Linked DNA regions of Homo sapiens: region 1 is linked to region 2. A link means that fine-mapping ties the variant in region 2 to the expression of a gene that starts in the linked region. Tissue or cell type: T cells. Region 2 holds a variant in brackets; the other region holds the start of a gene. All regions are shown on one strand. Distances are from middle to middle.

Evidence for each region. PIP is the estimated chance that this variant, and not a neighbour inherited with it, causes the effect.
Region 1: HEMK1 starts here. The variant in region 2 is fine-mapped to the expression of HEMK1 in T cells (TOPMed, PIP 0.94).

The regions. Positions count from the first base shown.
Region 1 is chr3:50,568,147-50,570,901 of GRCh38, forward strand. HEMK1 (HemK methyltransferase 1, mitochondrial release factors N(5)-glutamine) reads left to right here and starts at 1,376. Exons shown (of 11, transcript NM_016173.5): 1 at 1,376-1,428. It also overlaps a transcript of C3orf18 not described here. RefSeq lists an enhancer at 1,181-1,300.
Region 2 is chr3:50,646,930-50,649,684 of GRCh38, forward strand. It overlaps MAPKAPK3 (MAPK activated protein kinase 3), which reads left to right. Exons shown (of 11, transcript NM_001243925.2): 10 at 194-274; 11 at 965-2,362. The coding sequence ends at 1,117. Among named protein-coding and RNA genes, the nearest start is that of LINC02019, 21 kb to the right of the region's middle. RefSeq lists enhancers at 149-648, 2,140-2,693. The variant G/T (reference allele first, on the strand shown) is at 1,330.

The DNA.
Region 1 (2,755 bases), 79 kb before region 2:
AGACGGGTCCTCTGGTGTGAGGGTTCTAGACGAAGATGGGGAATCTTCGTCTACAGAAGTTGAGAGTGGGGTGGATTTATTATTGGGCACCCCGACCCAGGCAAGTCTACATATACCCTCACAATAGCTTCCATCCACGGCATGATCAGCTCAGGGAAGGAGCCCTCAGATACTCCTGATCCGCCGGTTTTCAAAGTAGTTTATGGGAGTCACCGGGTAGCCTGGTACAAATGCAAACGCCCCTGTGTCTCCCGGTCTGGGAAGGAGGCAGGGAAACAGCATGTTTAATAGCAGTTTAAGGCCGGGCGTGGTGGCTCACTCCTGTAATCCCAGCACTTTGAGAGGCCGAGGCGATGGATCACCTGAAGTCAGGAGTTCGAGACCAGCCTGACCAACATGGTGAAACCCTGTCTCTATTAAAAATACAGAATTAGCCGGTCGTGTTGGCTCACGCCTGTAATCCCAGCTACTTGGGAGGCTGAGGCAGGAGAATGGCTTGAACCCGGAGGCCGAGGTTGCAGTGAGCAGAGATCGCGCCATTGTACTTCAGCCTGCGCAACAAGAGCAAAACTCCGTCTCAAAAAAAAAAAAAAAAAAAAAGAAAAAAAGAAAAAAAAAGTAGTTAACAGTGTTCTAGTTAACAGTACTTTCTGGTGGGGAGATGTTGACAAGACACACTTTGCGAGACGCTGCCGAGTATTTTATAGAAGGCGCAACTGAGGTCCAGAGGTCCCAACACCTGGAGGAGTTGCCAATAGAGTCAAGATTCGAATCGGTAAAAGAGCGGCCCCTGGGGTCTGGCCGCCAGTCGGCCGACCCCCTGGTGGGCTCGGGCCACTGACCTCGGTAGGGTCACGACACTGGGACTGGACCCCAAAGTTGGACCAGCCTTCAACACTGGAACCCGCCCATGCACAGCTCCACCCGGCCCCCAGGCTAAGATAGACCACGCCCCCGGACATCTGGTCCCCGCCGGAACACCCGGGCCCTCTGGTGACACGCCCCCTTTCCGGCAGGCTACTGGGCTCCGCCCACACACCTCCCGGCCTGGTTCCTAAACGCCAGCTCGGAGCAATCCCCTTGGGCTGGAGCCAAATCCCTGCTGTGATTTTAAGGAAGACCGGCAGGTCCGGGCCCCCAAGGGTCAACCCCACACACATCCCCGCACTTTCCTGTATGCAGGCCTGCGAGCGTAGAGGGAGTGGAATTCACAGCCTCCCCACCCATCCGCAGGGGTCTCCTGGGAGGAACCCACCAGCGATAGGAACACTGAAGCTGGGCTACGGCGTCCGCCCGAGCCTTTTCTTAAAGGCGCCGACCCCGGAAGCGGGGCGTCCGAGGGAGCGCGCGACGGGCCACGCACGTCCGGGCGTCCAGTTCGGGGCAGCTTCTCCGGCTGGTGGGTGGGTGGGGCAGCCTTTCAGGCAGGTATGCATGGGAGGTGGGGATCGGAACGGGGTGTTTCGACTGCAACCGCCTGGAGACCTGGCCGGTACCATTCTCCATAGTGCAGATGGGGAAACAGGGTTGGAGAGAGGGGGCCTCATCTGGGTCGTTAACAATGCGGTGCGTAGCTGTGAGGGAGTTTACACTTCTGACTTCGGGCCTTGGCTCCTGGGACGGCGCACTGGTGCAAGAGCCGCTTCTGGAGTCTGGTGGACTCGGGTTCGTGTCTTGCCTGGGACAGTCTTTTTTTTCTTTTTTTTGAGACGGAGTCTCTCTCTGGCACCCAGGCTGGAGTGCAGTGGCATGACCGCGGCTCGCTGCAACTTCCGCCTGCTTGAACTGGGTTCAAGCAGTTCTCCTGCCTCAGCCTCCCAAGTAGCTGGGACTACAGGTGCGCGTCAGTATGCCCGGCCAATTTTTTGTATTTTTAGTAGAGACAGGGTTTCACCATGCTGGCCAGGCTGGTCTCGAACTCCTGACCTCGTGATCCGCCCACCTCGGCCTCCCAGAGTGCTGGGATTACAGGCGTGAGCCACCGTGCCCAGCTTGCCTGGGACAGTTTCTACCTGAGTGACGCTGGGCAAGTCGCTTCCCTTCTCTGACCCTACTTGTATCTGAAGATGTGGCACTTAGCAGGTGCTTAATAAACGCTAGTTTGGACTTTTATCTGGAAGCAAAGGGGACCGCTGATTTTAAACCTTCAGTTAAACTTGCTTGTGACCTCTTTAAATATACAATTGTAAATTTTTTAGTTGGTGGTTTACGCTGATGTCCCGGATTATAGGTTAAATTAGGAGGAAATTTTCAGCATGTACATCCATGACAGTACACACACAATGTCAGATTCAAAGCTCCCAATTAAAGGCAATCATCTGCCTCTTGTAACATCAGTTAAGATCATGTAACATCTGGTCCCTGCTGTGTGTTGAGCTGCCTCCCAGGCCTTGGATATTCATAGACTAATGCATTGCTTGCCATGGGTTTGGTGTGATTTTCCCCCATCTTATGGATTAAGAAAGTGAAAATCAGAAATAATGACTTGCTCAAGATCACACACGCTAGGTTAGACACAGATCTGTCCTGTCCCCACATATGTGCCCTAACCTACCACCAACCCGTTTATTAGCAGAGACTGAGCTATGGGCTCAGCCCACTCCAGCTAAAAATGTGAAGAAAACGTAAGTGGCCAAGACAAGAATGATCAAATAGGTGGGTAAGGCTCTAAATGGAGTCAAGGGGGTGTCAGAGCAAGAGCACAACTATTCTCAGGCAATGTATTGGTAGAAGGGGGGGTGTCATACAAGGCTCA
Region 2 (2,755 bases):
TGGGCCCATGCACACAGGTAGATACTAGGGCCTCACCTACAACCTGGCTTTGTCACTGCCCTAGTGAGGCTCCTTCCCCACCCTGAGCCTTGGTTTTTCCATCTGAGTCTGGGAGAAGAGGATGGAGTAGGGGGAACCAGTGCTGTCCCAGGTGCCTCCAGTTTCTAATCCACGGGCGTGGGGCTCCTTCCAGCAATCGATGGTAGTGCCACAGACCCCACTCCACACGGCCCGAGTGCTGCAGGAGGACAAAGACCACTGGGACGAAGTCAAGGTGGGTGGGCTCTGCCTCAGTCTCAATACAGGTGCCAGGATTTGGGCAAAAGGGACTTCAGGGGGGTGGCTACCCAGGGTCTGGGGTCTTTGGCCCCTTTCTATACCTGGAGCACAGGGTGTCAGTGACTGTCGCAGTGGTCCAACCATGGCACTCCAAGGATTGGGCCTCACTACGCCATTCAGTGTGGTGCTCCTGGCTCACTTCCTCAATGAAACGGGGCTTTGGTACCAAGCTTGGATGATGACCTCTCTTATAACCAACAACATTTGGGAGGGTGGTCAGCCTGGTTTAGACCCAGCAGAGGCCACGTTTGAACATATGGAGTAGCAGCTCCAGTGGCACAATCTCCAGGCCCCAGTGCGCTGGTTGCCCAGCGAGATGGCATTCTCTGCAGGTCTTGTGGTTCTGTGGTGGAACTGGTTTAGTTCACTATCCCACTTACCCTTGGTGTGGTCCGAGGGAGTAACTCTCCTTTTGTGCCTTAGTGAATAAGCTCAGTGTCTACCACAGAGGACGGTAGTGAGGATCATGTGATGCAAAGGGCTTGGCCCAGTGCTGGGCACACAGTGGGCACAGAGGCAGCACAGGCTGTCACTGACATTAAGGGGCTGCCCAGGCAGGGGGGTGATGGTTCCTAAGGTCAGTACATCCTGACCTCTTAGTGCCCACCATCCTGTCTGTCCCCAGGAGGAGATGACCAGTGCCTTGGCCACTATGCGGGTAGACTACGACCAGGTGAAGATCAAGGACCTGAAGACCTCTAACAACCGGCTCCTCAACAAGAGGAGAAAAAAGCAGGCAGGCAGCTCCTCTGCCTCACAGGGCTGCAACAACCAGTAGCTCATGGGGCCTTGGAGGAGCCTGGCCTCTCAGCCTGCATAACAGACTGAAATGTGCTCAGGCCCTGGCCAGGAGGGCCCAGGGTCATTCTTTTAACAAAAGGATTATTTTGTTGTGTTTTAATTTGTCACTCGGAACTTCAGGATGGAGGACCCTGACCCTAAACCTCCTTCAGATCTCTGGCCCAGGCTCAAGCCCTAGAGATGGGCAGG[G/T]CCTAGGGGCTGGGAGCTGCCTGCTGCCATAGCAGCACCTTTAGCTAGGTTGGCCCGAGTGAGGCCTCTGTGCTGTCCTGCCCTGGTGCATGGCCTTAGCTTTCTAGGCCACTGGGAGTTGTGGCTGGGCTTCCCATCTTCCACAGAGACATCTCCCTGTGGGATGGGCAGATGGGCCTGGCCTTGAGAAAGGCATTGGCCATTGGTTGCCATGGTGACCAGGGACCACGTTGCTGCCTGTGAATGCTGAGTGAGCGAGTAAGGGAGGAGGGGCGATTGAGGGTTCACCTCTGCCTTGGGGAGGCTGATTTCTCACACACTGGCTGGCCCTCTCATTCTCACTCCTCCTTGGGCCCTGAGGCTGCTGGATCCGGTCTGCCTGCCTCCCTGTGCAGTCCAGCCCTGCCTTGCTGCAGCCCCAGCCCAGATGGCACTCAGCGCTCTCCCCTGAGGGAGTCCCTGGGCCTAGCCATCCCCTCACTATTCCCGACCCAAAGGGTGACTTTTCATCTGAACTTAAGGTGGGAGATATTTTTAACTTTTTTCCACTTTGGAAAATGTCACTGTGACAAAAGCCAGCATACTTTCCCTGCACCCATCTGCTCACCAGATCTCAGGCAGGAAAGCCCCTCTCTGTTGAAGTCAGGGGCTATCTTTTGGTATACTTGTGTGAAAGTGGCTGGTTGGGAGCAGAGCTAAGTGGCTTCCCATTAACCTGAGGTCTCTTTCTTTACTCTGGGTCAGACCTGAGGTTGGGGAAGGCGACTGAGCCATGCTCAGAATGTCTGGTCCTGGCTTGGGCCTGAGTAGGGCAGAGAGGGCCTTTCCTGGCTGATCAGAGCTTACCAGCCCCACCCCACCATGGTAGCCTTAGGGTGCTGAGTGCCTGATACTGCCTGACAAGTGCCTGACACGCAGCCTAGTTCCTTCCTGGCCCCTCTCTCACTGGCTGGGAAACCCTAGACCATGTCAGATAGGACAACACTGCTGGGTTTTACATCCAGATAGTAATAAACACCATTTCATCATTTTCTCTTGGCTCCTGGGTTTACTCTTTGTCTACAGGGGTGGACAAAGGTGGCCCAAGGGCAGCTTCTCAGACCCACTAGTGATTTCACCCCAGCTGGAGGGGGTGCCTCAGGCCTGATAAGCATGCCATGCTAACTCCAAGGCCAGAGTCCTCGCCAGGCCTAGAAAGGTCAGAAGAGCTGAGGGATGGCAGCTGCCACATGCCCCCAGCTCTGTGCTGCCCCTGTGCAGTGTGTGTGACACCTACCCCCGGTCCTGTGTGTGCCAGCATCTGCCCAGAGTGGCCACCCCCAGCTGTGTGCCAGCCTGCTGAAGGGCGGGCAGAGTGCCTGCTGCAGCGCTGAGCTATTTTCAGAAACTGCCAGATTTCATTTGGCAGTGAGAATATCGAGGAGGG